Homo sapiens: one gene and its partners. The protein of the gene in region 7 purifies or fractionates together with the protein of the main gene of each other region. This does not show direct contact. Each region holds a gene or a part of one and is shown on either strand. Other genes may lie near its edges. The genes, in order: CCDC102A, FGL1, THADA, TPM4, UNK, TOM1L2 and SRXN1.

Evidence for each region.
Region 1: the proteins of SRXN1 (region 7) and CCDC102A purify together in Homo sapiens (affinity purification with mass spectrometry; one large-scale study listed by BioGRID and IntAct). This does not show direct contact.
Region 2: the proteins of SRXN1 (region 7) and FGL1 purify together in Homo sapiens (co-immunoprecipitation; one large-scale study listed by IntAct). This does not show direct contact.
Region 3: the proteins of SRXN1 (region 7) and THADA fractionate together in Homo sapiens (co-fractionation; one large-scale study listed by BioGRID). This does not show direct contact.
Region 4: the proteins of SRXN1 (region 7) and TPM4 fractionate together in Homo sapiens (co-fractionation; one large-scale study listed by BioGRID). This does not show direct contact.
Region 5: the proteins of SRXN1 (region 7) and UNK fractionate together in Homo sapiens (co-fractionation; one large-scale study listed by BioGRID). This does not show direct contact.
Region 6: the proteins of SRXN1 (region 7) and TOM1L2 fractionate together in Homo sapiens (co-fractionation; one large-scale study listed by BioGRID). This does not show direct contact.

What each region holds. Positions count from the first base shown.
Region 1 is NC_000016.10:57,530,072-57,533,571, reverse strand, and holds part of CCDC102A (coiled-coil domain-containing protein 102A), read left to right. Parts: intron 1-3,500.
Region 2 is NC_000008.11:17,882,025-17,885,524, forward strand, and holds part of FGL1 (fibrinogen-like protein 1 precursor), read right to left. Parts: coding exon 3,468-3,500; intron 156-3,467; coding exon 1-155. UniProt on the Homo sapiens protein: Immune suppressive molecule that inhibits antigen-specific T-cell activation by acting as a major ligand of LAG3. Responsible for LAG3 T-cell inhibitory function. Binds LAG3 independently from MHC class II (MHC-II).
Region 3 is NC_000002.12:43,233,195-43,236,038, reverse strand, and holds part of THADA (tRNA (32-2'-O)-methyltransferase regulator THADA), read left to right. Parts: intron 1-2,844. UniProt on the Homo sapiens protein: Together with methyltransferase FTSJ1, methylates the 2'-O-ribose of nucleotides at position 32 of the anticodon loop of substrate tRNAs.
Region 4 is NC_000019.10:16,075,187-16,079,294, reverse strand, and holds the start of TPM4 (tropomyosin alpha-4 chain), read right to left. Parts: upstream 2,801-4,108; 5' UTR 2,730-2,800; coding exon 2,598-2,729; intron 2,280-2,597; exon of another isoform or gene 2,165-2,279; intron 1-2,164. UniProt on the Homo sapiens protein: Binds to actin filaments in muscle and non-muscle cells. Plays a central role, in association with the troponin complex, in the calcium dependent regulation of vertebrate striated muscle contraction.
Region 5 is NC_000017.11:75,819,306-75,822,805, reverse strand, and holds part of UNK (RING finger protein unkempt homolog), read right to left. Parts: intron 3,123-3,500; coding exon 3,021-3,122; intron 2,887-3,020; coding exon 2,698-2,886; intron 330-2,697; coding exon 148-329; intron 1-147. UniProt on the Homo sapiens protein: Sequence-specific RNA-binding protein which plays an important role in the establishment and maintenance of the early morphology of cortical neurons during embryonic development.
Region 6 is NC_000017.11:17,962,401-17,965,900, forward strand, and holds part of TOM1L2 (TOM1-like protein 2), read right to left. Parts: intron 1-3,500. UniProt on the Homo sapiens protein: Acts as a MYO6/Myosin VI adapter protein that targets myosin VI to endocytic structures. May also play a role in recruiting clathrin to endosomes. May regulate growth factor-induced mitogenic signaling.
Region 7 is NC_000020.11:650,401-654,518, forward strand, and holds the start of SRXN1 (sulfiredoxin-1), read right to left. Parts: upstream 2,801-4,118; 5' UTR 2,786-2,800; coding exon 2,576-2,785; exon of another isoform or gene 2,553-2,575; intron 1-2,552. UniProt on the Homo sapiens protein: Contributes to oxidative stress resistance by reducing cysteine-sulfinic acid formed under exposure to oxidants in the peroxiredoxins PRDX1, PRDX2, PRDX3 and PRDX4. Does not act on PRDX5 or PRDX6.

The DNA of each region.
Region 1 (3,500 bases), on a different chromosome or scaffold from region 7:
GTGTGTGAGTGCAGGTCCCTGGGGGTGTGTGTGTGAGTGTGTGCATTACTGGGGCTGTGTGTGAGTGCGGGTCCCTGGGGGTGTGTGTGTGAATGTGTGCATTACTGGGGCTGTATGTGAGTGTGTGTCCCCAGGGCTGTGCTGTATGAGTGGGGCAGGGTAGGGGGAGGCGTTGCAAGGCAGGGTCTGGCTGCCCTTGGGTCTATGTGGGAGTGCAGGATTCCTGGTGTGCTGGGGGCGGGGTGGGCTTCTCCAGAAAACTCCCCTGAGGACCCCGACCCCCACCCCTTCCCACACACCCGCTCCAGGGGACCCTGGGCCTGAAGTGCAAAGGTGGGAGTGCTGTTCCAAAACTTCCGTGCTCCTGCTGTGCCCTTTCCTTCTCCCCCAGCCCCTAGGAGGGGCCTGGCCAGGCCGCTGGGAAGGAGAATGAGGTGAGTCTGGAGCCCCCATCTCTGCCTTTAGCATGGGTGCCTGGAAGCCATTAGAGACCTGGGTGGTGCCTGCCCTGGCCCTGCCCAACAGGCTTGGATTCCTGGAAGAAGCCGGTGGCCCTCTCTGGGCCAAGCCCTGTGCCAGGCCTGGCAGCTCCCAGAGGCAGGGAGGATGTGGCAGTGGCCCCCTCCCTGCCAGGCTCCTAGTTCAGCGGCTGCAAGAAGGGCCCAGCAGACAGGGCCCGGGCCCCCATACCCAGCACAGCTGCCGGCTGGCATTCGGGTTTCCTGCCTCCTCCTCCTCCTCCCCTCCCCCCACAGGCTCTCACATTGTTTTTCTTTTCCAAGAGCTTCTCTATGTGGAGCTAGGCCAGGAAAAGGAGGAGTGTGTGTGTCTGCCTCTGTGTGTGTGTGTGTGTGTGTGTGTGTGTGTGTGTGTCTGCTTCACTTGGGGATGAGCATGTCTCCTTGCATGTCCTTGTACCTGTGTGTCAGTGTGCTGGCATATGTGTGTCTTCAGGCGTGTCTGTGTCTACAGGCAAATGTCTCTCCATGCACCCGTGTCGTTGTGTGCCTGTCCGTCCATCTGAGCATATGTGTGTCTGCCCCTGGGTCTTTGCATCTGTGCATGGGATTGCATGTCTGTGTGTGCACAGATGTTTGTGAATGCACATGGGCATCAAGGCCAGCCAGCTCACTGCACAGGCGGAGAGACTGGGTCACAGAGGCACAGGCTGCTAGGGATCTCCTGGGGTGTCAGTGGTGTACATGGAACCAGAGCCTGGATCTGTATGGCTGTGTCTGGGTGCGTGACACAGATGTTATCAGGGTCGGGGTGTACATGTTGTGTTTATGGAACTGTGGGTAGTAAGAAAGCATCGCCAAATACTCAAATATCCCAGACTATTAAAATGCAAATTCCAAGCTCCACACCTAGCAAACATGACTCTCTCGGGTATAGGGCCAAGTGTCTGGGTGAATCTGAAGGACACCCTGATGAAGAAGCACTGGTCTCTCTCACACATCCCCCCTTCTACACATGGGGAAACTGAGGCCCAGAAAGGGACAGTGGCTTACATGAGGTTGGTGTCAGAGCTGGGCCTAGACCTCATGCATGGTAAAGGCAGACAGACAATAAACAAACAGCAAATGGCCTAGAGAAATGCAGCGGGGTCGCTGAGCAGCACGGAGGAACCTTGACAAAAGGTCATGAGTTTTAAAAAATACTGCTCCACGTGGTGGTGTAGACCTCCAATGCCTGGCTCCATAGTTGAAGGTAAGAGTGGGCAAAGCAGTGGAGGGAACAGGGTTGGCGTTTGCCAGGAGAAGCCAGAACAGGAGGGGCCTAGGGCACAGAGGGTGCTGGCAAGGGAGAAATTAGGAGCACAGAAGGTGAGCTGGGAAAGAGAGGGACATGGGGGTGGGCAGTGCAGTGGTGGGATCAGTGGCTTGCGGCTCCTGCTGGGATTGGAGAGTATTTGGAGTTGAGTCCTAGAGGGAGTAACCTTAGAATTGAGGCTAGGGAGGAATCAGTATTGGTAATGACACAGGGAGGGGCCATCAGAGTGGTCAGGTTCTTACAAGAACTCACTCTGGCTGTTGCTGTTGAGAATGGATTTGAAGGAGGTGAAAGTGCATGATGGGCAGGGAGGTGGGTGTGGGTACTGTTACCCAGGTGAGTGAAGGTGGTGTGGACCCTGACAGGTTAGTGACTGTGGACAAAGAAGGTGGATGGAAGGCGGATGCACAGCAGATAGACTGACAAGGTTTGGCGGTGGGTGGGGGAGGAAAGAAGGCAGATTTCAGGGTGCCTTCAAAGCTGGAAGGAGTGAGGAAGTGCCTTCTCTGGAAGGAGTGAGGAAGTGCCTTCTCTCGGAGGAGCACCCAGGAGGAGCTGGTCACGGGGGGAATGGAGGCAGCAAGTTCTATTTTAACCAAGATGAGCCTGAATCATCTATCAGGCATCCGGTTGGAGGTATGGGAAGCTCTGAGGGCAACCTGGGCTGGAGAGGGACTTGGAGTTGGGGACATAGCGAGATGGCTCGGGCAGGGATATCGTGAGAGGAGAAGGGGGCCCAGGGCCCGATGACAGCCGCATTCGAGGGATAAGCCCAGGGGGTTCACCTGGGAGGCTGACGAGCAGCTGGAGAGGAGGGGAAACCTGGAGAGGAAGACGTGGAAGCAAGTGAGGCAGGGAAGCAGGTGCCACGGTGGGTCCAGAGGGCACACCGTCACAGGGGACTGGAAACCAGCCTGGCACAGGTGGCCGGGTGACAGAGCGCCAAGCAGGTAGACGGAGTGGAGACGGCGAGTGTGGACCACTTTGGAAGGACCTTAAAAGGGAGGTGCCAGGGGAGGGGAGAAGAAGGTGTCAGGAGACACTTCAGCAGGGGTAAGACCCCTGGAAAGGACGTCACTGGCTAGGGTGGGACTGGCAGGAGGGAGGCCTTCGGCTCAAGGAAGGAGAACCCCTCTGTCCTCTCAGGGGCAGAGAGGAGGGGGCCGTGGGGCTTGACAGCTTCCTTTTTCACTGCAAATCATGACGATAGATCATCTGCCGAGAATGAGGTGGGTTAGAGATTGGAAGAAGGTGGAGAGGGGACATAGAGGGCTGCCAGGCAGCCTTGGGGACAGCCAGTGCCGAGTCCCACCGACAGTACACTGATCACTCAGAAAGGGTGGGTCTTAGGGGCAGGTGTGAAGATCTGTGGACCAGGGCTCTCTGCCTAATGGGGAAGGAAAAGTGTGATGTCCCAAGGGGCTGTTGGTGGGTGGCAGTCAACAGAGGCCGCAGTGGAGGGAGACTGGGGACAGAGAGGGACATGCCTCTCATTTATTTTAAGGAGGAGGGGGGCATGGCCCATAAATGGCAGAGCCCAGTGCTGGGCGATGGGGAGGCTGAAGTGAGACACAGAGAACAAGAGAGCTGTTTGCGGTGAGTCACGGTGTCAGGGAGGGGTGGTTCCGGCAGAGAAGGGGAGAGAACATCCTGCTGCACTCTCAGAAGCCCTTTCCATCTGAGGACTGGTTTGTTTCCATCATCATCCCCAGCGCGTGCGTTCATTC
Region 2 (3,500 bases), on a different chromosome or scaffold from region 7:
TCAATGACAGTATTCTCATCTCCTTTATCAAGGAACTGGACTTCATTCTCCTGCAAAAGCTGCTTGATCTTGACCTGTTGCTGTTTGACCCGGGTCTCAAGCAGGCGCACCTGGGCTCTGAGCCGCATCTGCTCCTGGGCACAGTCCTCGAGCGCCTGCAAAACAGGTGAGATGAGATGAGTATGCACCTCATTTTCATGGAAAACAAGTGCTTTTTAAACATTTGGATAAATCAGTGATTCCATTTTGTCTCCAGTTCCCATTTCAGAATATTATTCCAAAGAGAAAGTGGCTTGAAAAGTTCTAATACTGCCTACTATTTGAAGAATTGGAAATTATGGCTTATGCGAAAACTCCTGGACTCAAAAGATCAAATAATATAAAATAATTGGAATCGCTATGCTAGGAGCTTTATAGTTGTCTCCTTTGATCCTCATAACAATTCCATGCGGTAGGAAAGGGCTCAGTCTTGATGCCCAGTGGGTAAGCGGAGGTGGGATTCAAATTCAGTTCAAGGACTGTGCTCTCAATCTCTATATGACATTGCTTATGTGTTTTCTAAACAGTAATGTGGTTTATAGAAGTTAATTGTACTGTTGGCATGTAAATCTCCATAATAAATGAGGTTTTTGAATGGCTGTCTGGTATAAATACTTTTAAATATGTATATTTAATGTATATTATATATTATATATATTATATATGCATATAAATAATATATAATATATATAATATATAATATATTAAACAATATATAATATATAGTATATAATATATTAAACAATATATAATATATCATATATAATATATTAAATAATATATAATATATATCATATATAATATATTAAATAATATATAATATATCTCATATATAATATATTAAATAATATATAATATATCTCATATATAATATATTAAATAATATATAATATATATCATATATAATATATTAAATATATAATATATATCATATGTAATATATTAAATATATAATATATATCATATGTAATATATTAAATATATAATATATATCATATGTAATATATTAAATATATAATATATATCATATGTAATATATTAAATAATATATATCATATATAATATATTAAATAATATATAATATATATCATATATAATATATTAAATAATATATAATATATATCATATATAATATATTAAATAATATATAATATATATCATATATAATATATTAAATAATATATAATATATATCATATATAATATATTAAATAATATATCATATATATCATATATAATATATTAAATAACATATAATAATATATAATATATTAAATAATATATAATATAATAATAATATATAATATATAAAATAATATACAATATAATAATAATATATAATATATATTACAAAATATATAATATGAATATATATGAATATAAATGAATAGATATTATATAATATATAAATATAAATAATATATAATATATTAAATATATTTATATATAATATAATGTAATATAATTGTATTTATTATATTATAGTCTACTTTATATAATATATTATATTTATACATAATATACGTATATATAAAATTACATAATGGATTTATATAGTATATATTATATCAAATACATATGCATATATAATACATTTATATTTATATAGTCTATAATATATATATATTTTTTATATATATATATATGTAGTACATCTCCCCTCCCTCCCATCTCTAGGTCCAAGTCATGGAACCTCTCCCAGCCATTTTTCTAGGATGGTTTCTCCCTTTTCCTTCCCCTTCCCCTTTCCCTTCCTCTTCCCTTACGTTTCCTTTCTCAGAACCTCTCCCAGATATCTTTTCTAGGATGATTTCTTTCTCCTCTTTTCTTTTTCTTTTCTTTTGTTCTTTTCCTCTCTTTCTCCTTCCCTCCTTCCCTCCCTTCCTTCCTTCCTTTCTTTTCTTTCCTTTCTTCCCATCCCTAGGTCCAAGTCACAGAACCTCTCCCAGCCATTTTTCTAAAATGATTTCTTTCTCCTCTTCTTTTTCTTTTCTTTTGTTCTTTTCCTTTCTTTCTCCTTCCCTCCCTCCCTCCCTTCCTTCTTTTCTTTTCTTTCTTTCCTTTCTTCCCATCCCTAGGTCCAAGTCACAGAACCTCTCCCAGCCATTTTTCTAGGATGATTCCTTCTCTCTCTCTCTCTCTTTCTTTCAACAGAGTCTTGCTCTGTTGCCCAGGCTGGAGTGCAGTGGTGCGATCTCGGCTCCCTGCAACCTCTGCCTCTCTGGTTCAAGCGATTCTTGTGCTTCATCCTGGCAAGTAGCTGGGACTATACAGGTTGTGTGCCATAACACCCAGCTAATTTTTGTATTTTTAGTAGAGATGGGGTTTTGCCATGTTGCCCAGTCTGGTCTCAAACTTCTGGCTTCAAGCGATCCACCCACCTCGGCCCCTCAAAGTGCTGGGATTACAGGCGTGAGCCACTGCACCAGGCCTCTCTAGGATTACTTCTTATTTGTTCTTGTTACTCTATCCCTAACACTCAGATTTATCCCTTCTGAGATAGTTATTTGCTTAGCACCTTGAGTCACATAGGCTAAAAAATGAACAGCAAGAACATTTTATGGTGTCTGGGTCCTGAGTTGTTTTACAACAGTGGGGGATCGGTTGTGATATTGTTAAACATAGTGCACTATGCAATTTTAAAATAATTGAAGACATCACAGGTCAAGTATGCCCAATCTTTATGAGATTGCATACGCATATTTAGTAAGCTTATTTAAAACCTAGGAGTTTTCTTTCTCCAAGAACTTTGAATGAATGTTTTGTCTTTTTTATTCACAAATGAAGGACAACACAAGTTCGATGTAATTACTTTCAAATAATCTGGTTAGTTTTACACTTTTCAATATTGAAAAGCTCAAGGTTAATTTTAATTACTATGGACAGTTTCAAATTTCTAATATTCCAACCAAATAACTCCAGTGAATTTTTAAAAATTACTTATTTATTATGAATACTTTTTATTTAAAAAAATGTAAAGCACTTTTTTTTTTTTTGAGATGGAGTCTCACTCTGTCGCCCAGGCTGGAGTGAAGTGGCATGATCTCAGTTCACTGCAATCTCCGCCTCCTGGGTTCAAGGGATTCTCCTGCCTCAGCCTCACGAGTAGCTAGGACTACAGATGCGTGCCATCACGCCCGGCTAATTTTTTGTATTTTTTTTAGTAAAGATGGGGTTTCACCATATTGGCCAGGCTGGTTGCGAACTCCTGACCTTGTGATCCACCCATCTCGGCCTCCCCTGCAAAAATGTAAAGCGCTTTAAAGTGCTGCTTTACTATGTGTCCAGTATTTCTACCAGCCTCTTTGCTTTTCCCACATAGTTAAGTTTTTTCAATGACAAGTCACTATAGGTTTAATGCAAAATGAAAGAAAATTCAGATAAAAGCAGGCATTATAAATATGACAATAGTTTTCCCAAGAAGCTTACCGAAATTTCCCTGCCCATTGTCAGAGCGGTGGT
Region 3 (2,844 bases), on a different chromosome or scaffold from region 7:
AGGAGATCGAGACCATCATGGCTAACACGGTGAAACCCCGTCTCTATTAAAAATTCAAAAAAAATTTAGCCGGGCGTGGTGGCGGGTGCCTGTAATCCCAGCTACTCGGGAGGCTGAGGCAGGAGAATGGCATGAACCCGGGAGACGGAGCTTGCAGTGAGCCGAGATCCCGCCACTGCACTCCAGCCTGGGCGACAGAGCGAGACTCTGTCTCAAAAAAAAAAAATGGTGCAGGATAGAGGCTACCTGTCCTGTCAGGTGGGGCTAGTGCAGCAGCCTAGCCTTCCTTGGTGGCATCTCTGGTCACCCCCATAGGTTCTTTATGGACTCAACAGGAATGTCACTTGAGCTGCAGATACTGATTTTGCTGATGGATGATGAAATTTTTTTCTTCCCTGTTGGGCTTTCAGTCCTTGCCTTAAGGAGACCATAAAAAAAGTGGTGGGAGGCCAGGTACAGTGGCTCATGGGTGTAATCCCAGCACTTTGGGAAGCCGAGGGGGCAGATCACTTGAGGTCAGGAGTTCGAGATCAGCCTGACTAACATGGAGAAACCCCGTCTCTACTAAAAATACAAAATTAGCCGGGTGTGGTGGCGCATGCCTGTAATCCCAGCTACTTGGGAGGCTGAGGCAGGAGAATCTCTTAAACCTGGGAAGCGGAGGTCGCGGTGAGCCGAGATGGTGCCACTGCACTCCAGCCTGGGCAACAAGAGCGAAACTCTGTCTCAAGACAAAACAACAACAACAAAAAAGTGATAAGCTGGGCACAGTGGTTCATGCCTGTAATCCCAGCGCATTGGAAGGCTGAGGCGGGTGAATCACTTGAGGTCAGGAGTTCAAGACTAGCCTGGCCAACATGGTGAAACCCCATCTCTACTAAAAATACAAAAATTAGCCAGCCATGGTGGCAGGAGCCTGTAATCCCAGTTACTCAGGAGGCCGAGGCAGGAGAATCGCTTGAACCCGGGAGGTGGAGGTTGCAGTGAGCTGAGATCACGCCACTGCACACAAGCCTGGGCAATACAGCAAGACTCAGTCTGAGAAAAAAAAAAAGAGTGATAAACCCACTGGGTGCAGCGGCTCATACCTGTAATCCCAGCACTTTGGAAGGCTGAGGTGGGTAGATCACTTGAGGTCAGGAGTTTGAGACCAGCCGGGCCAACATGGTGAAACCCAGTCTCTACAAAAAATACAAAAATTAGCTGGGCAAAAACAAAATTATCTGGGTGTGGTGGCACATGCCTATAGTCCCAGCTACTTGGGGGCTAAGGCAGGAGAATTGCTTGAACCCAGGAGGCGGAGGTTGCAGTGAGCCAAGATCACGCCACTGTACTCCAGCCTGGGCAACAGACTCTGTCTCAATCAATCAATAAAAGTTGAAGGGAAAAAAGAAAGAAAAAGGCCACTTAATTATCCCTTCTCTATACAGATTCTCAGCCAATTGAGAACTGCAGAAAGGAGTTAGGTAGAGGTAAAAATGGAGATTGTATTGTAGGTAGAGGCCCAGTCAACACATGGCTCAGACCCACAGCCAAAATGCACCTTCACCCCCTCCCCTTTTCTGTTTCCTGGTTTAAATCTGGGTTCTAGGCTGCAGAGCAAGCAGCATGGGGAACGGGGACACTAAAGGGCAAGTGTCCTGGGGGACTTATCTGGAGCTCTCAAGATGGTGAGATCAGTACTTTCACCTGCTTACATGCAACTAGGTGCTGCTGTGTGACCTCTGAATAGTCCTGGCCCTACTGCAGGGTCACTACCCCTGCTGACCCCACCATCAAAACCTCTGGATTGTTGATGCTGGGTCTCCAAATCTGCGCTTTGCATGCACCATGAAACTTGTTGCCAACTGTAATTTCTTGATGTGTGCAAGTGGGTTACATAATACCCAACCCATAGGATGCTAGAAGGACTGGGGAGACAGCATTTGATCAGGGCCTGGCACTCACTAGGCCCTCAGTGGGGCCATCCCAGTAAGCCTGGTTCAACACCCACGGGAACTAAGCCTGCTGTTGCAGATTCTCGGTCGTCTGCCTGTGTGCCGAGTAAGTCTTTCGGGGGCCAGATGGTCAGGGTAAGTCTGTGTGCTCAAGTTAGAGATGTGGATTTGGGAGTGATCAGGGCTCAATAGAAATGCATCATTGAAAGACAGGCCTTTCAATGTCAGTTGGTGCAAGATGGGCCTACAGAGGTCCATTGTGCAGTGGGCTTTCAGTCCCGTGTTTCAGACACCCTCCAGGTTTGGGATGGGAGGGGCAGAGTTGTTAGGGGAAGTGACAACACCCCTGAGCCTCCCTCCAAACCCATATTTAGGATTGTCTAAGGCCAAATGTTGAAATAAGCAATGGTTTCCCCAAGGCCCCCTGCTTCCTCTTTCTGCACCCTTCTATTCTTTCAGTGCCCTTCCTCCAAGCACCCAGGAAAACAAGGGTCCAAAAACAAAAAACTCCGAGACAGAGGGCAGCAAAATAGGAGCCAAATGCAGCCTACCACCTGCTTTTTACAGCCCATGAGCTATCAATGGTTTTTACATTTTTAATTGGTTGGGAAAAAATAATATTTTGTGACACATTAAATTCAAATTTCAGTGTCCATAAATAAAGTTTTATTGGAACACAGCCACAACCATTTGTTTACAGATTGTCCATGGCTGCTTTCAGCCGAGGTGAGGAGGTATAGGCTTGCAAAGTCTAAAATATTGACTCTCTGGCCCTTTAAGGAAAAGCTTGCCGATGCCCTGCTCTAGGATGTGTCTTGTGCCCAAGAGATCTGCTTTCCAAGGAAAGGGCAAACCAGTCAAATCCAGGCAGATGTGCAGAGGAGACACTGGACAGGGAAGCCTTCCT
Region 4 (4,108 bases), on a different chromosome or scaffold from region 7:
AAAAACTGTGTACCCATTAGCAGTCGAGGAATTGATTTTAAAGATCAAACAGAGGTGCTTGATTCATGAGTTGTCTTTTAAGAAGTGAGTAGCCCTTATGTGGGAAATTCTGAATCCTGGCAAACAACGCTTTTGGCAGATTTTCAGCTGTCTGGAGTTGGGAGATACACGCATATCTGTACATGCATACATATATATGTATTTTTGAAAAACTGCTAGTCACGGCCGAGTCATTTTGGGTTCCACCCCTTCCTGCAATCAAAGCCTTCCACACGCTACAAAGGATTTCCCTTATAAGGTAAAAGAGGCTTGCTAGATACATGTGGCAAAGGAACAGGAAGATGTCAGTTAATCACACAAAAATCTAAACGAAACCAGCTGTCGGGAAACAGGCCCAGAAGTCTACCACACGCCGGCTCCTGGCTTATTCTACAAGAGTGAAAGGTTTTTTTTTTTTTTTTTTTAACCCACCCCTGGTCTTAGTTCCTTTTGCCCTGGGAGAGGTTTTCCCTCTCCCAGACGGAAAGAAGCATCCTTTGCTTTTTCAAGAACTTTTCGAACTTTTTCAAGAAGTCTTCAACTCTCCAAAAACATCTTCTCTCCCAACTAGACGGTCTTGCTCCTAAATCTTGGCTCCAGGCTGAGGGCCATTTTGAAGCCGAGTTAATTGTCCTCCAGCGAGATGACTTGGGATGAGATCAGAGCAAGAGCTGTGTCGGTTAAGTGTGAGAAAGAGGCCAGACCGGCTACCGATTGAGGCTTACACCGGGTTTCTAAGGCCTCTTGGGCCAAAGCAGCCCTTACAGGATTAGAGGCTTCAACCAAGGCCCATGCTGCAGCCCCCATCTGGGCTCTTTCCAGTCCTGGCAATTCACACCACCAATTCCATCTGGCTGGGCATCTTTTGCCTCTCTAGGGTCCCCACCCTGAGCCTCAACACTGAACTTTCAGGGCTTTTGGGCTTCAACCTCTATCCGCACACCCCCCCACCCTCATCATACAACTTTCTTGCCTCTGAGTCTGTGCACACCCATGTCTCTGGTCCCAGCAAACTTATTTATTCTATAAGACCCAGCTCAACCTCCATTTTGGAGCCTCCCCTGTCATGCTCCCATAACTGCACAGAAAACCCGTGGAATGCAGACCTCGCTCCATCAGTGAGTCAGCTCCCCTGCCTCCATTTGTCTATGAGCTCTTCCCAGGGCAGAGAAAACACAATTGAGGCTGGGCGCCGTGGCTCACGCTTGTAATCCCAGAACTTTGGGAGGCCAAGGTGGGCAGATCACGAGGTCAGGAGTTCGAGACCAGCCTGGCCAGCATGGTGAGACACTGTCTCTACTAAAAATCCAAAATAAAAAAAAAAAAATTAGCTGGGCGTGGTGGCGGGCACCTGTAATCCCAGCTACTCGGGAGGCTGAAGCAGGAGAATCTCTTGAACTCGGGGGGTGGAGGTTGCAGCGAGCCGAGATCGCACCACTGCACTCCAGCCTGGGCGACAGAGTGAGACTGCCTCAAAAACAAAACAACAAAAAACAACAACACAATTGATTATTTACAAAGCGCCAGGCTCCACGCCTGAGATTTACTCCTGGGACCCTCCCTGCTACTCTGGGGGGTCGGGATTCTTATCAGTCCTACTCGCAGATGGGAAAAAAGCTCCTAGAGAGCAAATACCAAGTCATGAAGCCTGTGGGTGGCATGATATGGGACCAGAATCCAAATCTGTCCCCAGACCCTGGCGGTGCCACCATCTGTCCCGAGGGACAGCCAGGAGGATGATGCAGAGAGGATGGTGAAACTCCCTCCTTTTTCAGACCCATTGTTTATCTCGGGCCCTGCGACTCGCGGCGGAGGCGCACAGCAGGCGCTCAAACGATCGTGGGTTCAGGGCCCCGCGCCAGCGTTCCCGGGGCCTTCTGGAGAGAGGCAGGGTCCCGCCGCCCCGGTTCCCGCAGGAATCAGCTGGAGAAAGGCGGGCGGCTTGGGGCTGAACTTCCTCCACCCCCCATCCCCCCCGCCGCCTGGAGCAGACACGTCGCCGCCGCGCCCCTGGGAACGGTCAGGGAAGCAAGCAGAAGCCGGGAAGCCGCGAAAGAGGCGAGAAAGTGCGACCCCCTCCCCAGATCCCCGGTCCCCCGTCGAAATCCCTGTCGGCCGGTCAAACCCTAGACAATGGAAGCTCCACGTTTTCATCCTCATTCTCCCCCACAAGTCCGGTCGCGGGTTCCCCTCGGCCCGGGACCCCGGCGCCAGCCCCGGAGTCGGAGCCTGCACGATACGCCCCCTCCCGCCGCTCCACTTCTCCACCCGGAGATCGCTCACCCCCTCCGCCCCATCCCCCCATTTCCCGCTTGGCCGGCCCCGCCCGACCCGGAGGCGGCGCCCCCTCCCCTGTCCCAGGCCCAGGAAGGAGGACGGCGGAGGAAGTAGGGGGTCCTGGCTGCGGGCGCAGGGATGTGGGTCGGCGATCGGCGTCCGAGGGCGTAAAAAGGCGGCCCGAGGACTGCGCGCGGGCGGGCAGCGCGGGAAGCCGGGAAGAAAGGAGGGCGCGCGGGGGAGGAGGCTGCGGGTGCGGGGCCCGAGGCCGGGGCGCTCACTTTCTCGCGCCGCTCGCGCTCGCCGTCCAGCTCCCGCTGCAGGCCCTGCGCGCGGTCTTCCGCCTCGTCCGCCTGCTGCTGCAGGGCCTGGATCTTGCGTTTCACCGCCTCCAGGGAGTTGAGGCCGGCCATGGCGCGGAGGCGCAGAGGCGCACGGGCAGCGGCGGACGCTCGGCTGGGCTCGGCTCCGGCGAGAGCTGCACAGCCGCGCCCCGGCCCCCCAAGCCTTTGCCTGCGCGGGGGCCGCCCCCGCCTCTCCCCGCCCCCCGGGCCGGCTGCCGTCGGGGCGATGAGGTCACCCGGCCGGACCGCCGACGTCAGCACCGCTGGGGGAGGGCCTGACGTCGGCACCGCTGGCCACAGCTGCTGGAAAGTGCCCCTTTTCGGGACTTATTTGGAGAAAGCGCTGGGAGGCGCCGCCTTCTCCTCCTCCTCTTCCTCCTCCCCCTGCGGCTCTCCCCGCCTTCCCGGCCCCGGGGCTCCGGCCTGGCCCCGCCGCGGGCTCCCGCATCCCTGCACACGTACGTCGGAGGCCTTCTTCTCCGTGAGCTCCAGCTTCTCCTGCGCGTCCTTCAGGTCCTCGGAATATTTATCCAGCTCGTCCTCTGTCCCTTTTAGTTTCTTCTGGAGGTGCGTCAGCTCCTCCTCCACCTGGGGACGACAGAGCGAGGAACGGGTCAGCCTGGGGGGGGGGTCACGTCCCCGAGGTGCAGGGGCGGTCCCCCCCAATATTCACAAGAGTCCTCCGTCTCTCTCTGGGCATCAGTTTCCTTATCTGTAGAACAGGGGTTGCGATAGCATGCACCACGCCATCCATGCTACCTGATAGTGGGATTTTCACATCTTTCCCTCGTCCTGAGGACCAGCTGTTTTGGGCTTATTGGGGTCCCCAGTACTCTAGGGAGATCAATGGCAGCTTTTGGGAAACTGAAGACTCCAAATGTTTTCCAGAAATACACACATTCCAGTTTCAGAGGTGCAGCCTCACCATGATCTGGAGTTAAGCAATCTCATTCTCTGCGCGTGGATCCCTCCGCCCATCCCTGTCCCCAGCCTTTCTCCCTCTGGTTCTGACCCCAACACGGGGTCAGAGAAACTTTCTAACAAATACGCCTGCCCTCTTTCTGCCTAGAACCTGCTATGGCTCCCTATGGCCCAAGGCAGTGGTTCTTAGACTGTCTTACCAAAATACTCTGAAGGGCTGAAGGGCTCAGACCTAGTCCCTCATTTCTGGGCTTTGGGGAGCTTGGCTAGAAGAGACTCGCCCCTACAGGATCACTTTCTTTGAAGGCTCGGGTTAAATCTTTAAAATTTTTGCATATAGGCCATGTTCATTTTAATAAAAATGTCCCCTACTTTCCCTAAATTTTCAGTCCTCTGTTTATCCCAAGAGTCCTATCCTCCCATCACTCCTAGTTTGAGAAGCTCAGGCCTATGGATTACAAACCACAGACCCCATCACCTCTCTTTGTCACCCCCCACCACACCGGTCTAGAGTTGGCTCAAGAAGA
Region 5 (3,500 bases), on a different chromosome or scaffold from region 7:
AGGGGGAGAGCGAGCGAACAAAACTGAGTTTCTGCTCTGTTCTTCCAGCCCCCGCTTTCCCCCACCCCACGCCCACTCTGTGAAGGAAGGTCTTGGGCTGGATGCCACCTGGCACTGGGGAAGGCCGGCAGGCACGGGGCCTGGTACCTGCTTGGCCTGCTTCCAGGACTCCTCCCACTGCTTGATGGTGCTGTTGGCTTCATCCAGCTCTTGCCGAAGTCGGGCCAGCTCGGCAGCCCCTGGCCCTGATAGGAAAGCGGGGGAAGTGCCCGGGGAGAAGCTTCCAGAGGCAAAATGCTCCCAGATGCTGCTGTTCATCCCGTTCAGACCTGCCCCAAGGAGGGGAAGAACATCAGCTCCGGAGGGCTTTGGGCCCAGGCCCTGGCCAGCCCTGCCTCAGAGGTTCCAGGGACTGGCTGTCCACTGGATGGGTGTGCAAGGCTCCAGCTAGTGTCAGGCCAGAGAATTTTGCAGGGACAGGAAGGCTGTGAAGGTGCAGGTGGCGTGGGCGGAGTCAGACCTAACCTTGAGTGACACCTGCTAGTTGGTGCCACTCAACTTCCGAGGCTCAGCACCCTCATGTGGGAAATGGGACTCCCACACTGGCCTCACCGGGTAACTCAGGGGACTCAGGAAGTACTGCATGTGAGAGCAGTCCCAGGCCCCCGATAGTGGCAATTTATGATTGTGGCTTCACTTTTAGGCTAGGGCCTTTTTGCAGCCTGATGTGAGGCCCAGGAAGAGATAAAGGGGAAAAGACAGGCCAGAGCCTCATCGGATGGCAGAGCTGGGGCAGGAAGAGCTCAGGGAGCCTTGGGGCCATCCCCCTTGTTTTACAGACAAGGACCCTGGATAAAATGTTTTACCAAGAATCACACAAATTGTAAGTGGTAGGGCCAGGACACAGACAGGGAGTGTGGTTCCAAAGGCCTATGCTTTCCAGTCAACTATGCTGCGTGCACAGCCTCCCACCCACCGCCAACCCAGCTGCCCTCTGCTCACTCGCTCAACAGATGTTTACTAACATCAGGTCCCCCTGCTCTGGCCCCCAGGGCAGCCCCGGGCTTCCGAGAAGGACCCATATCCACCTCTGGCCTCACTCTGCCCATATGTACTTTCTGGTGACTTCTTCCTTGCTCCCTTTCCCACTAATCCAACCAGGATGTTCCAGAACCAGATTTAAGACGCTTTGCTCTCTGAGACACACAAGTGCACCCACAGAGGAGGGACATGGTCCTGTGCGGAGACCCTGTGGCATGCACTGTCTGAGCCATCTGCCCCATCCCAGAGGAAGACCTCAGGGTCACCCCACCCACATGAGACCAGCCCTGCAGCAAGCTCTCCTGTCCCACCCATCTCTCCTCCTCCCTTGGAGAAGCTCTCCTGACTCTGCTGTCCAGGTAGGCCCCTCTATGATTCTCAGGAGGATCCCAATGGCTGGGCACCTCTGCTTCCCACACTGGCCACAGCTGCTGGACAGCAGGGACTGTTGCACTTACACCTGTATCAATACACCTGTGCTCAATAGTCACATGGTGCAGGAAGGAGTGTGTGGCCAGTAAGTGGAGCTAAGTCTAGACGCCACCAGAAGCTGGGCATGGTGGTGCACGCCTGTGGTCCCAGCTACTCAGGAGGCTGATGTGGAAGGATTACCTGAGCTCAGGAGTTCCAGGCTGCAGTGAGCTAGGATCATGCCACTGCACTGCACTCCAGCCTGGGTGACAGACTGAGACCCTACTCGAAAAAAAAAAAACAGATCCTATCCGAATATGGGGCAAGTCCGAAAAATGCAACACCAAGCACCTAAAGCTGACAGAATCAACGTAACAGAGAACAGCCTCTTCAAACTGGAAGGCGCTGAGAAATCCATGTGCTGTTCTGGGATCAGGAATGAGATAAGGGAAGCCACCAAACCCAATCAGAACTCTGAAGGGCTCATTCCCTGGGCCCGAGCAAAATGCTGGCACTCTCGGGGAGGGAGCTCCTGGTGTCTGCAGCTGCTGGGGGAGAGTGAGAGCGGTGGTGCCATGTGCTTCCCATCCCGCCCTCAGGAACATCCCCTGACACACACAAGAGGAGATGCACAGCCGGCCCGCAGTGGCACAGGCCTCTGTGCCATTCTTCTAGCCACTAAACCTTGAAGTGCCCTCAGAAACCCCCATTCCATACCATTCTAATTCTGTGGGCAAACAGCCTTCTGGGCCAGCCCTGGGCCTCCCTGGAGCCTCTGCCCGGCAGGAAGGGCACCCGAAGCCAGGGGTTAACCTGTCTGGCTTCTCCCTTGGTCCCCTGTGAACCTGGCTGGTGCGAGCCAGCCTCTCGGAGCCTGGGGTGACTGGGCAGAACAGAACCATGCTGTGAAAGAGACCAGGCCCAGCCCTGGCAACTGAGACCCCTGCTCTCACCTGCACTGGCCTCGTGCCTAGCACTTCAGCCCCATTACTCCATTCAATGCTCACAACGTTAGGAGGTGGATGCTGCCGTTATACCCATTTCACAGCAGAGGAAACTAAGGCAGAGAGGCTCAATCACTTGTCCAGGGTCACACAGACAGGAATCTGACTCTGCCTCCTCGCCCAAGGCCTCTGCCCTAACCCCCAGCCTAGCTGATATGCCGTAGATGGGGTGGCCAGAGGCACCTCCTAAAGGCGCAGGTTCCTGCCCCAGTTCTCCTGAGTGAACCACTCCCTCTCTTACCCAAAGATCCATGTGATGCTGAGGTTCCCAAAAATGTGTTTTCCGACTGACTCAGGTGGCCCTGGGGCTGCTGCAGGAAATGCGAGGAGAGGCTGACGGGAGGGGACGGGGATGCTGAGTGGAAGGAGGCAGAGCTGCCCAAGGAGCCGGGGATGTTCACGGGTGCAGAGCTCTGCAGCAAGCTGCCGCCTGCAAGAGAGGCCCGGGGAGGACGGGCTGGGTGAGGGCAGCGGAAGCCAGGCGGGCCACACAGAGCAAGGGGCCTGAGCCAGGCAGGAACCCGAGGAGTCCTCCAGGCTGCCCTGCCCACCCACACCCAGTACCGATGGTGATGCTTCCTGGGTGGGGCACTGTGCTGTTATCGAAAGTCTTCTCCAGGGCGGCCACGCCAAACTCATTCAGGTCCAGGTCATCCAAAGCAGACTCTAGGGACAGAGAAGAGTGGGATGTGACCTCCCGAGGGACTATCTGACCCTGACCACCTCGTCTACTGCCCACGCTGCATCTTCACGCCCATGCTACGCTGGGTCCGTATTCTCCCAAGCCCCTGTGCCCTTCCTTCAGCTGCTTCCTATGCCAATCCTGACTCCTGACTTCTGACACCGTCTGCCAGTCATGTCCAACCCAAATGCCTCTCCTTTCTGAATCTTCTTTGATACTTCCAGGAGAAATCACATCCCCATCCAGGGTCCCTGCCTCGGACAAGGGTCTTGTCCCCTGATGTTACAACTCAAGGGTCTCAGCCCCGGGATCAGTGGGGGTGGGCGGGTCTCTGGGCACTCAGTGGCTGGTGTATAGCAGGT
Region 6 (3,500 bases), on a different chromosome or scaffold from region 7:
ACCTCCTCCTCTAGCAATTCTCCTGCTTCAGCCTCCCGAGTACCTGGGACTACAGGCGCACACTGCCATGCCCGGCTAATTTTTTTGTATTTTAGTAGAGACAGGGTTTCACCGTGTTGCGCAGGCTGGTCTCGAACTCCTGAGCTCAGGCAATCCACCCGCCTCGGCCTCCCAAAGTGCTAGGATTAAAGGCATGAGCCACCGCGACTGGCCCAATGTGAATATATTTAATGCCATTGAACTGCACACTTAAAACCAGTTAAAATTGTAAATTTTGGGCCTGGTGTGGTGGCTCACGCCTGTAATCTCAGCACTTTGGGAGGCTGAGGTGGGTGGAATCACAAGGTCAAGAGATCGAGACCAACCTGGCCAACATGGTGAAACCCTATCTCTACTAAAATTGCAAAAAATTTAGCTGGGCGTGGTGGCGCGTGCCTGTAGTCCCAGCTACTTGGGAGGCTGAGGCAGGAGAATCGCTTGAACCTGGGAGGCAGAGGTTGCAATGAGCCGAGGTCGTGCCACTGCACTCCAGCCTGGGCAACAGAGTGAGACTCCGTCTCAAAAAAAAAAAAAATGTAAATTTTGTTATATATATTTTATCAGGTTTTTTTTTTAAAGAATAAATAGAAACAGGTGCCCTCATGGAACATTTAGTCTAAATGATGTAAAACATAACAACACATTTTGCTTTTACATACTCACTTGACCCCTGTAAGATGTGATGGTGCAAGTGTTCTTGTACTCCCTTCACCACCACAGTTTACAGATTGGGAAACTGAGTTTTAGCACAGTTACTGGACTCATACAAAAGCAGTCGCATCGAGAAGCAAAGATGGGACTGACTCCAATCTAGAACAAAGAGTGCTAAGTGCTGGAAGAGAACAAAGAGAGAGCAATGGGAATCCACATTCCTATTGGTGGAACTATGCTATCTTTCTGGAATTCCTATTTGAAATCAGTTTAGGCTCCTTCTTGTCCAAATGGAAACAGACCATGCTTGATGTCTAAAAGGCAACATGAACAAAGAAAAACGCTGGAGCTAGAGCCCCTGGCTGGAGAGGACCGCTCCGCCTACTTGAGCCAGGAAACCTTGGGCAAGTTTCTGAACCCCTTTAAGTCTCTATTTCTTCACCTGTAAGATGAAGATAACAGTGCTTCCAGAGAAAAAAATTTTTAAATGAGATAAGTATGCACAGCACTCAGCAAGGTGCCTGGCACATGGTGAGGGGCCAGGAAATGATGGCTAGTAATGTTAGCTTTCAAAGATGCTAAATACCAGTGACAAAAAGAGTGAATAACTATGAAGAATATACTCTACCATGTGCTGTGAAGGTCACAAGGAAACAGAAAGTAGAGGAGCCTCCAGCCTTATTCAGAAGGTATGGCAATAAACACATGATAAATAACACAAGATAAATAACAACAGTAACAGTGGAGGGAAGGAATCAAGAAGTCTATATTAGTTGATTGCAGGACACCGTGCTAGGGATTTTAAGCACATTATCTCATTTAATCGTCACAAAAACCTGGAGGACAAGTAATATTTTCTGTTTTATAGATAAGAGAAGAGCCAAATGAATGATATGGATAGCAAGCACTGTGAGCTCAGAGAAGAGATTCATCACCATAAACAGGGTGGTCTAGGAAGGCTGCCTGTAGGAAGAGGTGAGGGCTGATGGGCATCAGGCTTGATGACTGAATGGAGAAAAGCAGAGAATCTCCTAAATCAAGAAGGTTGGAGGGAGCAATAACATATGTAACCAAGTCTGAGACTGGTTTTAAAAGTCGCCTCTTTTAACCTCAACAAGCCGGGTCAGCAGGAAAAGCCTGAATGTTATTTATATCTTCTCAGACTACTAGGTTAGCGCAACATTTCTGGGTGATTTATCTGCTAGGTCAAGAGCAACAACCCCTAACTGATGCTCCTCTGGGCAATGTATTTACACCGTTTTCCTTTCCTAATATCCCAAGTAAATAAATAAATAAATGTAGATTATACAGAAATATGCTAAAAGTTGTTCTACAATGTCGCCTCTTCAAGGCATGAGAAGATGAAGAGTGAAATACAAAAGTATTCCATTATGTGAAATAAGCATCTCAACAAATTTGTGAGGACGCACATTGTGGAGATTTTTTTCTCCTTTGCATTTTTTCTATATCTTTCATATTTTCTATCGGTTATACATCGTTTTGTAAAAAGCACAATGAAAGGCTGGGCACAGTGGCTGAAACCTATAATCCCAGCACTTTGGGAGGCTGAAGCGGGAGGATCACTTGAGCCCAGTAGGTTGAGGCTTTAACTACGATCCTGCCACTGCATTCCAGCCTGGGCGACAAAGCAAGACCCTGTCTCAAAAAAAATAAATAAATAAAAAGCACAATTATATGAGAATTTTAGATATTCCGATAGCCCACTCCTAAGCAGTGGCATTCCTCTAGAAAAGCCCTGGGAATAGGTCAGCCCTGTCATTGCATATGATAAACAGAGCAGGAGGAGGAGCAGGCTGACGCCCCACGTGACTTTCAATGTCAGGGGTTTTAAGACCTGTCCAGGCAATTAAGGACAAATGCTCTAGACTAGACTTCTTCTCAATGCTCCATCAACCTGCCTTGGCACCTTTCTGTTTCTGAGGGGGCTTCATAGACAGTGTCCCTACCCTTGACCACAGCTGACATCCCCCCTCCTTCCCCCACCTTCCCTCCCCAATTCTGCACAGAAGCGGGCTTTCATGGTAGAGAGAATGATCTTCTGGTGACTGCTAAGGAGAAATCTCCCTACCTCTGTAATGATATTCATGCTTCCATGCTATTCCCCTCCCTAGAAGTCTTTCATGCCTCCCCAGTACCTCTAAAATATAGTTCAAACTACTTAGCCAACATATGAAGCAAGCCCTCCACACAATCAGGCCTTATCCTCCCTTCCCAGTCTCACCCCCTATCACTCCCCTTTGCTAGGCACACAGAATAAATCCCATCACCCCCGCCTACCTCTTAACATCCAGCATTTGCTCAAGTTGTCTCTGCCAAGAAACCAAACATCCTTTTCCATTTCTACACAAACCAAATCCTCCCCATTCATCAAAGCCCTGCTCAGCAGACACCACCTCCTCAGAGTTTTCCTGAGTTCTTCCTTCCCTCCTACAGTGTTCCTCCTCACTTTACTCTTGCTGAGGGCAGCACAGCGTGACAGGATACCAGCTCTGGAGCCAGAATGCTGCATTCAGACTATAGCTCCCTCACTGCTAGCTGTGTGACCTTAGGTAGGTTCCATACTTTCTCATTGTCTTAATGTCCCCATCTGAAAATGGAGATAATCACAGTACCTTCCTCACAGCATTGTTGTGAGGATCGAATGACTGCAAGATGTATAAAGTGCCCACTTCAGTCTCTGGCACATAGGAATACAACATTAAACTTTTTTTAAAACCCCAAAAACGGGGCCGGGCATGGTGGCTCACACCTGTAATCCCAGCACTTTGGGTGGCCAAGGTGGGTGGATC
Region 7 (4,118 bases):
GAAAAGGGAGAATCTAAGTTGACTTCCTGTTAGGGGCCCACACAGCCAGGTGGAGAGTAGGTCATCCTCTAAACAGGGAAAGTCTGGGGCAGGACGGGTGCAGGGTAGAGCACTCTGGGGAGACCCCATTAAGTGTGAGCGGCGTGGAAGGCCTCCTGCTGCTGGTCCACGGGTTCTCTCTCATGATTCCACAAATGATTATTCAGCAGTAAGGTGCAGCAGTCACAAGCCTGAGCTCTGGAACCTGGCACACCTGACTTTGGATCTCAGCTCCTCTCCACAGCAGCTGGGGCACACAGCCCTCTGAACACCATTCCTCACCTGTAAACTGGGAATAAAACATCCTAGAGGGCTGCTGATGAAGAGTCAGTGAGCTGATGCCTACCGGGCATTAGTGGAGCACTAAGGAGGGCAGCCGTGCCAGGCAGGCCTTGTGCCGGGTACTGGAGGCACGATGGTGGATGGCCAGAATGATGGCTCCCAAAGATGTCCACGCCCGAATGCTTCTGAATGTGTTACCTTACATGGGAGAAGGGACTTGGCAGACAGAATTAAGGTAAGGATCCTGAGATGCGGAAATTATCCAAGGTTATCTAGATGGGTCGAATGCCATTATCAGGGTCCTTAAAACTGGAAGAGGAAGTAGAGGAAGAGGTCAGAGTGATGCGATGTGAGAAGGCCTTGGCCTGATGTTGCTGGCTTTGAAGACAGAGGAAGAGGCCATAAGCCAAGCAGTGTGGGTGGCGTCTGGAAGCTGGGAAAGGCGAGGAAATGGATTCTCCCCTAGAGCCTACAGAAAGTAGTGCAGCCCTGCTTGGTGTTAGCCCAGTAAGACCCATTTTGGACTTCTGACCATAAATAAACCTGTGTTGTTTTAAGCCATCAACTTTGTGGTAACTTACAGTGGCCCCAGAAAACTAATACAGGTGTATGTAAGCAAAGGCAGAGCTGGTTCTGGCCCTCAGAGCCTACGGTTCTAGCACGGAAGGCAGGTGTCTAGACAGGACGTTAAAAGCCAGTGGGCTGTAATCCCAGCACTTTGGGAGGCCGAGGTGGGCAGATCGCTTGAGGTCTGGAGTTTCAGACCAGCCTGGCCAACAGGGTGAAACCCCATCTCTACTAAAAATACAAAAATTAGCCAGGCGTGGTGGTGGGCGCCTGTAATCCCAGCTACTTGGGAGGCTGAGGCAGGAGAATGGCTTGAACCCGGGAGGCGGAGGTTGCAGTGAGCCAAGATCGTGCCACTGCACTCCAGCCAGGGTGACAGACCCAGACAACGTCTTAAAAAAAAAAAAAAAAAGCCAGTGAGATCAGAGCTATGCAGGTGGGCACACAGGTGGCTGCAGGCCCACAGAAGCTCCTAACCCGGTAGGGATGGTCAGGGAAGATCCTGACACTGAGACAGGAAGACCGAGAAAGAGTGAGAAACGACAAGGCAGAGATAGAAGAGGTTCTCAACGGGAGAAAAAGCCCAGTGGTGGGACAGGGCATGCATGGCAGATCCCTTCCCATCTCAGCCAGGCGCCGTGCTACTATTGTGGCAACAGATAAGATGGGACGAGGTCCTCGCCCTTGTGGAGTGCACGTGAGGTCAGGAAGACAGAAAATAAAATGCAACACAAATAGATGTATAATATAATTTCTGGTGGACATAAGTGGTATCCTGAAAAACATCTCGGGCTAAGGGGAGAGCTAGAGAGGCCAGTGACTCTGACCAAGGGTGATCAAGGAGGCAGAGAGCTGAACCAGGCAGGGGAGCAGGCCCTGTGGTTGTCTGGGGAAGTGGCTCCAGGCAGTGAGGACACTAGTGTAAATACTAGGACTGAAAGTTATCGGGGGTGGCTGTAGAGGTGCTGGGTGGGGCTTAGGGATCTCATGTGCTCACCTTCCAAGGGTCGGGGGAAGGGGACACAACGTTATGTAGGCCTAACCTGACACCTGTTCTTGCGGGGCCCCCAAGTTCCTGCCAGAATCACTCCGGTATTCTTAACACCCTTCCTCAGTGGTGGAGCTGACCCTTGACCTCTCCCACTTCCCATTCAGACAAGGGCCTCCCAGCAGATATGACACACCTAGTCCCACTGTCACTGACTGTCACAGCCATGAGAGCCCACGGCTTATCTCCGGGTAGTGCGGTGGCCATGTGCTGGGCAGTGGGGCCCAGGCTGCCTGGGTGTGAATTCCAGCCGTGTCACTTTTTAAGCGCCTGATCTTAGTCAAGCCGCTGAAATCTTCCCTGCCTCAGTTCTCGTCTGCAAAAGAGCCACTATCTACCTCCTAGGGTTGGCATAGGAAACTGAGGGACTTCCTGCAGTTCCTGGACCACTGCAAGCACTAGCGTTATAAGCGTTATCATCACTACTTTAATTATCTCGCCCAATTCCCTCCTTGCTCAAGTGAGGAAACAGAGGCCCAGAGAGGCCCAGCTACTTGCTCAAGGTCACACAGCAGAGGCTGAGCTCCGGCTGGGCCCGGAACCAGTCCGTCTCGCGTCCATCGCAGCGACCTCCCTCCTCCGGCAACCTCCCTCCTCCGAAGCCCTCCCTCCGGTTGGCTGGACTCCCCGAGGCCTCACCCGGATCGTGTCCACGAGGCTCTGCACCTTGGCGGGGTCCAACACGGACGGCAGCGGCCGGATGAGCACGCTCAGCGGCACGTTGTGCACCGCGGCGATGCGGCCCGAGTGGATGCTGCCGCCCTGCGCGCCGCCGCTCGGCCCGGGCCCCTCGGGCGCCCCCCGACCCGCGCCGGCCCTGCCCAGCGTTCCTCCTGCACGCAGCCCCATCGTCGCCGCCGCCGCGGGACTCGCCGCCTCCCCCCGGCCTTAACTCCGGCCGGGCCATACCATTCCGCGCGGCCGGGGGGGGGGGCCCGTGCCAGGGCAGCGCGCGTTTCTCCCCCGACCCCGCCGCGGTCCGGCCTCGACCCCGCGGTCCCCAGCCCGACTCCGGCTCCGCTCGCCAGGTGCCGCCAGACTCGCGCGGGGCTCAGGCTCTCCACCGGGGGGCGCCTCTCGCCTCCCCTGCGCCGCGCGGCGTCCGGGGAGTGGAAACGCCCGGGCGGGCTGACTCAGGGTGAGTTTGCAGGTCGCGGGGCGGGAGGGGCGCGGGTGACGCACCGGCCGGGCCGACTTAGGCCGCGGGGGCGGGGGCGGGGGAGAGCGCGGCGGACCTGCCCAGCCAGGGTGAGTCGGCAAAGCCCGCGGTGCGCTGCTGCCCCGCTGCTGGGGTTCCTAGCCAGCGAGGTTATGATCCCCACCAGCGGTTCCACTTCCAGTCTGGCGCCGGCTGTGTCTGGAGTCGTTCCGAACATTTTGCACGTGTATTAACGTATCTGAACCTCAAAACAACCCTGCAAGGAAGGTATGACTGTTATTCCCATTTTACAGAAGAGGAGACTGAGACACAGGTTTAAGTGATGTACCCAAGATCACGGAACTAGTAAGTGGCCGAATCCGCGTTCAAATCCAGACGGTCTGGCTCCAGAGTCCGCCTTCTACCCCACCGTTGGCTGCCTTGGTTCAGCAACAGTGACTGTCACACGGAGCCCTCAGGAGTCGCGCTGACAATGGGTGGGCCCTGCCTTCAAGTTCCACACTGTCTGTTTGTGTCATTACAACACTACTGGAAGTAGGTGCAGTTATAGACCCGCTGTTCAAGGTCAGCTGAAATGAAAGTCAGGTCACACGAGTCCAAACTGTGGGGCCACTTAACCACCAACTCCAAGCAGGAAGGTGGACGATCCCAGACTCGGTCGAAGACAAGCATGTCTGGTTTGCTTGTCTTCCTTCTCAACCTGAATGGCACGAACATGGAGAAATGCATACTTACCCTGCCAGCTGGAGAAAACTGGAGACGAAGGAGGGAGCCAGGAGTTTCTACTTTGCCTTCCACCAGTTGCTGACACTTTCTGAACCCCGTCTGTAAAATGAAGTCATGCTGCCCATCACTCAAAGTTGTGTGAATTGAGAGAGTGCTCATAGTGCTCTGTGAATTGCATAACATCCATTTTGCTGTTGAAGATCATTTATTTTGGGTTCTTAGTCTCTCACAAAACCTTAGAACACTGACACCAAGACTCCAGCCTTTCCCTTTCGAAACATAATTCCCGTGCGCACC